Regions from separate parts of the Homo sapiens genome. Here region 1 is reported to be linked to region 2. The links are microRNA targets in miRTarBase. Many come from high-throughput screens and were not tested one by one. Region 2 holds a microRNA gene; the other region holds the end of a gene's coding sequence. Distances are between the middles of the regions.
The links. Region 2 holds the annotated microRNA hsa-miR-548f-5p (UGCAAAAGUAAUCACAGUUUUU, at 1,497-1,518, shown strand). A microRNA usually pairs through its seed, bases 2 to 8, with sites in the 3' UTR of a target mRNA and lowers its output. Matches are read on the target gene's strand: a 7mer-m8 pairs with bases 2 to 8, a 7mer-A1 pairs with bases 2 to 7 and ends in A, and an 8mer does both.

Region 1: miRTarBase lists ARHGAP12 as a target of hsa-miR-548f-5p. Seed matches in the 3' UTR shown: 7mer-A1 at 877-883.

What each region holds. Positions count from the first base shown.
Region 1 is chr10:31,804,419-31,808,430 of GRCh38, reverse strand. It overlaps ARHGAP12 (Rho GTPase activating protein 12), which reads left to right. Exons shown (of 20, transcript NM_018287.7): 20 at 599-3,033. The coding sequence ends at 773. Among named protein-coding and RNA genes, the nearest start is that of MACORIS, 99 kb to the right of the region's middle.
Region 2 is chr10:54,605,293-54,609,443 of GRCh38, reverse strand. MIR548F1 (microRNA 548f-1) reads left to right here and starts at 1,487; the gene lies at 1,487-1,570. All of the region lies in intron 2 of PCDH15 (protocadherin related 15), which reads left to right. It overlaps LOC105378311 (a long non-coding RNA gene), which reads right to left. Exons shown (of 6, transcript NR_134503.1): 3 at 2,459-3,752.

The sequences.
Region 1 (4,012 bases), 23 Mb from region 2:
TTATGTAATGCTTAGCACATAGTAGGTGTTCAGAAATTGTTGCTAAGGTTAATATGAAGATGAGATTGGATATTAATTGAGGTGTATTAAGTTACCGTCATGGTTCTAGGTTACTACATAGCCACTTTAATAACCAAGTTCTTTCATCTGATAGAAAGTACACTAGAATACTAAAACAAAAAATCCCAGCTAGAGAGAGTTTTTTTTTTTTAAAGAAATTACATAAAATGAGTAAAATGGAAAGTTTAATCTCCACACCCTAATGAGATTTTTTTCCCATCAACTTAATGGAGCAGTCACTGTTACCTGAATTGTAACTCATACTTAAATGTTCTATTTTAAAAACTAAGCTAAAATATCACACATTTTAAGTTTGTTAGAGTATGCTTAATTGTATCTTTCAGCTGTGTTTATCAAAAAGAAAGCTTCACATGGCATTTAGACAGAATTCTACTTGGTTAAATAGTTTATGCATCACCTTAGGAAAATAAGTATTACTTCTCTTTTTAAAATGCAAACTGTTAGGTTTATAATACCATTTGAAGAATTTTCCCTCTCTCTTATTTTCTCTTTTAACAACTTCTTTTTTTCCCTTCAGAGTTATAGAAAATGGAGAGAAAAATCGAATGACCTATCAGAGTATAGCAATTGTTTTTGGTCCCACTCTATTAAAACCAGAAAAAGAGACTGGTAATATAGCAGTTCATACTGTGTACCAGAATCAGATTGTAGAATTAATTCTTCTGGAACTGAGTTCCATCTTCGGACGTTGATTCTTACTGAAGACAACCTGTGGAATAGAAGCTGGATTCCATCAGATTTCAAATGTTTATACACAATGTATTTTATTTTTTGGACCAAGCAGTGACTCTTTGATTTTGCACTTTTTTTTTGAGGGATCAGAAGGGAAGGGGAGAGTCGAGATGTGTGTTAGGCCCTCATATTTGCTGCTTTGTTGCAAGTTGATATAACTGCGTGTAATTATGAATTCATTTTATCCTGAATGTTTGCATTTCATACTCTGAATTTCAGTAAAAATCAAAACTTAAAATTCTAACCAGTCATATACACTGGATAATTTGGTAAGAAAACTGTATTTTTTTTCCCTGAAATTGGATAATGTACTTTCTTCTCAAGATTCATGACTTGATAGAACAATACTTTCAGTTATGTTGCAAAGGCTCTTGGGCATTTTAAACAAAATGAAGTATATCCATTTTGAAACCTGTGTATTTCTTTTTCGGGGTTTCTGCATGCAGTGGCAGTCTTAAGTGCCAAAATTCATTATAACCCCAAAATAACCCCTTGATGAAGGCTTGCTGTCTTTTACTGTGTTACACAGCATCCTTACTGGATATCTTAGTTGCTTGTTTGGGCAGCACACTAATATTACTTAAAACACTGTGATATACTGGAGTTTTAGTTAGCGGAAGTCAGTTCAGGGCATTTTAGGGCTGTCTTGCTATACTGAATTGTAGCTAACAATCCTAATTATATCTAGTACCATACTGAGTTATTGGTATGACCCTGTGGAAACACACATTATTTTATGTAAATATAGGCTAAAGACTTAATGTCCTTTAGCTTGTGTATATAATTGTGTTGTATAGTCTCAGAGTACATTCTAACCCTACATTTCTAATCATTGTTATTGGTAATCTTTTCTGTGAATATTAGGTTTCCTCCAGAAATAGTCCGTTATTTGGGAAAGTTAACTGTGTGCACTTTTAGATATTAACTACATTTACAGGCAAATCACTGTAATGAGAATGGTACTGGAAAAATACTGAATAGACTTGCTAAATGGCACATGCACTACAAGAGGAACCTTTTGGGTTATTTAATATGTACAGAAAACATTAGAAAAAATTTATTACAGAATTCTAATTCCAGTATGAATAGTGGAAACCCATCTGTAAATTAGATGGATGTTGGATGGAAAATGACATTGCTAAATTTGAGAATTTCTTTTTACCTACTAATGTAGATTGCTTTGTATAATAAAACACAGGGTTTGGAAGGTTTTGTTACAGGGAGCATGGTCTGTTGAAGATTTTTAAAATGTATTTTTCTAGATTAACTTCTGTACATGAAATGTCTAATAAAACTATAAGAGGTTTAGAGATTTTTCCATTGGAAATGTGCATTTTGGTTTCTAATTTTTTTGTTTTTTCATTTACTGGCATACTGTTATACCTCATTTTTAAAAATCAACTGAATCCAATATTTCCTGTGGCAAATAACACTTTCCTCATTTCATACCTTTTCTCCTCTCTTCCATGCCAACATTTCTCCACCCACAACGTACACTTTTTATTTCTCCATCAATATTTGAAAGCGAGTGATTTGTGACCAGGATTTTTTTTTCTTAGGGTTGCATTTATAATTTACAGATTGCCTTCCTTGGGAACAAGTATTTTTTTGTATGATCTGTCTAAAAACCTCTCACCTGAATTTTGTGGTAGAAAGTCTGTATTTGTTGTTGTGAGCGTGTTAAATTGATAACAAACCAAACTACTTGATAGCTAAAGCAGATTGTTTCGGGTGGGGAGAAAAAGCCCTAAATCAGAATGTTTATATTTGCCTAAAGATGTCCTTAATAATACAATATGCTTTAGATCTTGCTTATTTAGTGATTGTATACCAGGAAAACAATTAGACTCAAATCAGTGATGTTCTTGTTCTTGGTGTTCATGAACATATATCAAAGATTAAAATTGTCCTGTGTTTCTTGTTTCAAGGTACGTGTGTGTGTGTGTGTGTGTGTGTGTGTGTGTGTGTGAAGTCTTAAATGTTTTATTAGTCTACAGCTAATCAGTTTATTGTAATATTGTATGTACAGTGAGATTAATGTCTTGCGTTTTCATCCTTTGTGAATTAAAAATTCTCACTTGTTTTGTAATAACAAAGCTAGTAATATTTTCCTGTCTTGACAGCTTGGTTTTATAGTAGAAAATATATTAAAAGCTGAAATAAATTATCAGTGGAATTTTATTTGTTAGTAAGTCTTCCTTCATAATGTCATTGAAAAAGGTAGTTGCAGATTTAGAAAAGAAAGTATATTTAAATACATTGTCACATTCCAATTAGAAGAAAAACACTTATTTAAATTTTATAGAAATAAGAAATTTTACCCTTTACTCTGGAGAAAGTACGTTAATTATTAAATAATCTCCAAAAAATGATGTTTATATTTTAGATAGAGACAAATCTATAAATTGTTTTTATGTGAAAAGCACAAATGAAATAATTTGGTGAAACTTTGGACTTAGTGGTAGATGGGTTGTGCGTTTATAACATACACACAAACGTGTGTGTGTGCTAAGTGTTTGTGCACGCCGTTGCTTACATACAAGTGAAAACTCACCAATAATGCAGATACATGGAGACCTTTTTACTATTTCAGTTTCATTCCACGCTTCTTTGCAAGCCCACAATATTGAACATTAAGATAGCAGTGGGCTGGGCGCAGTGGCTCACGCCTGTAATCCCAGCACTTTGGGAGGCCAAGGCAGGTGAATCATTTGAGGTCAAGGGTTCGAGACCAGGCTGGCCAACATGGTGAAACCCTGTCTCTACTAAAAATTCAAAAAAATTAGCCGGGCATGGTGGCAGGCGCCTGTAATCCCAGCTACTCGGAGGCTGAGTCAGGAGAATCACTTGAACCCAGGAGGTGGAGGTTGCAGTCAGCCGAGATCGCACCACTGCACTGCAGCCTGGGTAACTGTGAGACTCCGTCTCAAAAAAAAAAAAAAAAGACAGCAGTGAAGGGAAAATAGTTATTCCATAATTGTGCCAAGAGATTTTTTCCAGCTCATGGGAGAGGCTTCTAATTAAATACTTAAACATGTAGTTTCCCATGACTCGAATTCCTCAAAGATCTTTAGGCATTTTTAAAGAAATACACAGAGGAGTCCACAACACATCTTTTTAGTAAAGAAGAAAATAAAAATAGTCAAGTGGGCGCCACGCTCTCACTAGTCTAATAAAAGTCAAATGTTCAAATATTGCA
Region 2 (4,151 bases):
GATAGCTGCATTTTTTATGAAGCATAGGTAATGGAGCAGTATACTACAAATGCCTTTTCCTGAGACATTGGTGTGGAATATCTTTAACACAGAATTTTTTCCTAAGAAACATTCCTTTACTTGTGTGCAAGTTTATGAGCCTACATGTTCCTCTCCTGAGTAATTTATGTAGAATACATAACATTTGAAATGTATTTATGATATTTGACTATTATAATGAATATCTGCCTTCAGGTCAGACATTACCAAAAATTTTCATTTTTAAAAAATGAGCAAAAACAGTAGTGCTCATTTATATTTTCCAAATGTCTTCATAATTGAGTATACTGACAATTCAATAGTCAAATTTTAATAATTGTTGCAGTCAACGTTTTGTTTCACATTGAATAATTTTTTATTGTACCTTTCAGGGAAACATTATTCGTGCGCTTGTAGTGCGTGATTATCATTCATGTTGCTTCTAATAATATTTTGCTCACATACATCTTATAGATTGAGTACAGAGTCTAAAAATTTGGGTATGATTATACTACTTCAGAATATATTTTCATTTCCCAAATGTTATTGACTCTTAAAATTTCTAGCTAGGGACTGATTTTTTTTTCTCATTTCTTCTTCTTCTTCTTTTTTTAATGGAGAATAATATAATAGCTGTGGAAAACAAATGACTGTATTTTACTAAACTACACTAAACAAGCCAAGACACCCTTAATTTAATTCAATGTGAAAGTCAGAATTGTAAGAGAGCATAAATCTTGACTTCTTGACGAATATTACCAGACTAAGTCACATCATTTTGTTTGATGACTTTCTCCTTTTTGTATTTTTTATTTTGTTAAGAGAGGGTCTCTGTCACCCAGGCTGGAGTGCAGTGGCATGATCACAGATCACTGCAGCCTAGATATCCTGGGTTCAATCTATCCGCCCACCTCAGCCTCCAGAGTAGCTGAAACTATAGGCGTGTGTCACCACACCCAGATAATTATTATTATTATTATCTGTAGTGATGAGGTTTCACTAAACTGCCCAGGCGGGTCTCAAACTCCCGAGTTGAAGCGTTTCTCCCACATCAGCCTCTCTAAGTGGCTGGACTATAGGTGTACCCCACCATGTCCGCTATTTTTTCTTTTTTTTTTTTGGTAGAGATAAGTTTTTGTCATGTTGCCCATGCTCGTCCTAAACTCCTGGGCTCAAGCAATCCAGCCACCTCGGCCTCCCACAGTGCTGGGATTACAGTTGTGAGCCACCACACCTGGCCTCTCCTTTTATTGAGCGAAGTGTTTGCATACAAATCCCCTGGGATTTTTTTGCTCGGAAATCCCCTCAGGGCTATGCCTAGTCCTCTTTTTGGCTCTATCACTTTTACTGTATTTGTCAAAGAAAAGTATTTCAAGTTAAAATATTATTTTGAAAAATTCCTTATGTGTGCAAGTCTTCTCACAATAACCAAAATGATGTAGGCAAAGCCTTTCCAAAGTGCGGAAGTATTAGGTTGGTGCAAAAGTAATCACAGTTTTTGACATTACTTTCAAAGACAAAAACTGTAATTACTTTTGGACCAACCTAATAGCCTGATTAGCAGTGTCTTGCTCACAGTAGGCCTCATGGCATCATATCTCTTCCTTACCATCATTCTTCATATATCTATAAAAATTCTTTGTAGTAGACAGTAAAAGCCTTAAAGTTACCATTGATTTATTGAGCAATCTAATATTTTTTCTAATAAATATATTAAGATAATATAAATTTTAAAATCTCCATTACCCTCTAGTCTATTATATTTTCTTACTGATTGAATCGTTATGCTAAGGCAATTCTAATCGTAAGGACTATGGGTTGATTTCTACTCTTAACCTGAAACAAGAATAAATTTGTCATGCAGACAAATTTGCATAATGTTCAAAACATAAACATATGCCAGGAATTGAGAGGTCTCTGAGGGCAGGGACCTGGATTTCCTGTATGCCTTTCCTTCTCTTCTCTCTAGTCTACTGCCATTCTTTAATATTTTTCCATATTTAATAATGCCACATGTTATCATATATTGGGTAGTGGGCAGGGATATGGAGAAAATCATATTTTTGCCCCAGAATCCTCTACCAAGAATATTATTAAATTTAGAAGATTTTATATCACATTATTGTTTACCACATTTATTGCACATAAACTCAATTTTAAATCTTATAATTATCTTTTGACTAGTTCAGATATATTTAATTATTGTATTTTCTTTATGTAAAAAGTATTGTTATTAAATGTAAACATATAAAACAACTCATTTTCACAAATAATTTTTAGCATTTTAATTTTTTAAAATTGCAATAAATATTAAGTATAAGTTACTTTGACAACTAAAAGACCTTTATTACTTATGTTAATAAATCTTTCTAGCCACCTGAAATTAGTATATCTTTTCAAAAAATTCACTATATTTTTATGTGTATTTGCAGCCACTCACCATTTAGCCTTTGTTTTATGACTCTAGGGAATTCTTCATTAAAAGCTTTAGAATAGTCAGAATGTGAAACAGAAGACAGATCTATATAAGGCTCTTCCTCTCTCATCCTTCTGTTAGGAATTCTGCCACACTTTTGGTTTCTGATGGGTTTGATGTGACTTGGCCTTAAGTTTGGGCCATCCTTTAAACAATTAATCTGTGTTCTCTGCCACATGCTTCCAAACAAGTGTAGCTTGACTTCTTATCTTTTATGATATCTGAAAACCCTTCAGCCTACAGAGACACATACACTTAGTCTTTTGGTTGCTGATTCCAGTTGAGGACAATACTAATTTTTCTAGCCTGCATCCGAACTGGCATCTTTCCACAATCTTGATCCTGACCCATTGCTTCCATGTCCAAGACAGCACAAAATTCTAAAATTTTTATTTTGTTTTATTTAGTTTCCTTCTCTCTTTCTGATAGCAAGAAGGACACAAACTAGAGAAGCATCTTTGGGCAGTATGTGAAGCCTGCTCAAAGGAGTTGTAATCATTCTCATATATCTCAAAACTGAAGATAATTCTTGTCCTCTATGAAGGGTTTCTAGTAGCTGCTTTGAGAGTTCTTAGTTTCCTTTCTTTGTATTCTCATCCATGGCAGACATTCTTTGGCAGCAATTCTCACCTCTCAGGAAATAGAATCATCACTACTGTGGCCAGCTACTACAGACAAACTAAGGTACATTGAGAAAAAATGCCCAAACAAATGGGTTCTTCCCATATCTCCTCCACTTCACCTCCTCATTCACCAACTAGCTACAACAACAAAGCCCAGTTCCCAGATTCTCTATGAAAGAAGTTAGACTACAAATCAAGCATTCTAAGTTTTCTAGCTCCTACCTGAGGTCTGGCTTCTAACTCACTGTCTATGAGAGCTATTGGTGTTGCCATTCACTATTTACATGTGGGCTATAGAAAACAAAGCAGCCATTTTAAACAGGCATGTGGATATTTCCACAAATTCTCCCACTTGCTCACTCTAATGATAAAAGCAAGCCTCTAGCTTCAGTCTGGAAGGAATTTATCTACATATCTATCCCCTTAACTTTTCCAGCTGCTACCTGAGGAACTAGCTTTCAACTGACGTGTCTATGAGAACTAATGGAGATCAGCATCCATTAGGCCCATGGAGGCTACAGAGATCAAAGCAACAGTTTGAAAAAGTCTGTGGTTTGAATGAGCTTGCAAACATTTGCCATAGTTCTTTTCCCCAGCTCAGTTCAGCATGAGCAGATTATACACCCAGCTTTTCCCTGAGGAGAGAAGAAATTGGAAAATCCAGTTAGTGCCCCAACATTTATGGTTACTACTAAAAAGGATCAGTATCTCACCTGTTTCAGGGCAATGATGAGAGCTGGCATACTCTGGACACCCAGAGACCACTGAAAGCAGCAAAAGAAAAACAACTTGTTATGTGTTAGGGAACCCTCCTATGATCATTGGTGGATTTTCAGCAGAAACTTTGGAGGCCAGAAGGGAGTTGGATGATACATTTAAAATGCGGAAACAAACAAACAAATACACAACTGCCAATCAAAACAGTATACCCAGAAAATTATCCTTTAAAACTTAAGACAAAATTAAAAAAATCGAAAGCTGAGGGAGTTTATTGCCACTAGACTTGTCATATAAAAAATGCTAAAGGGAGTACT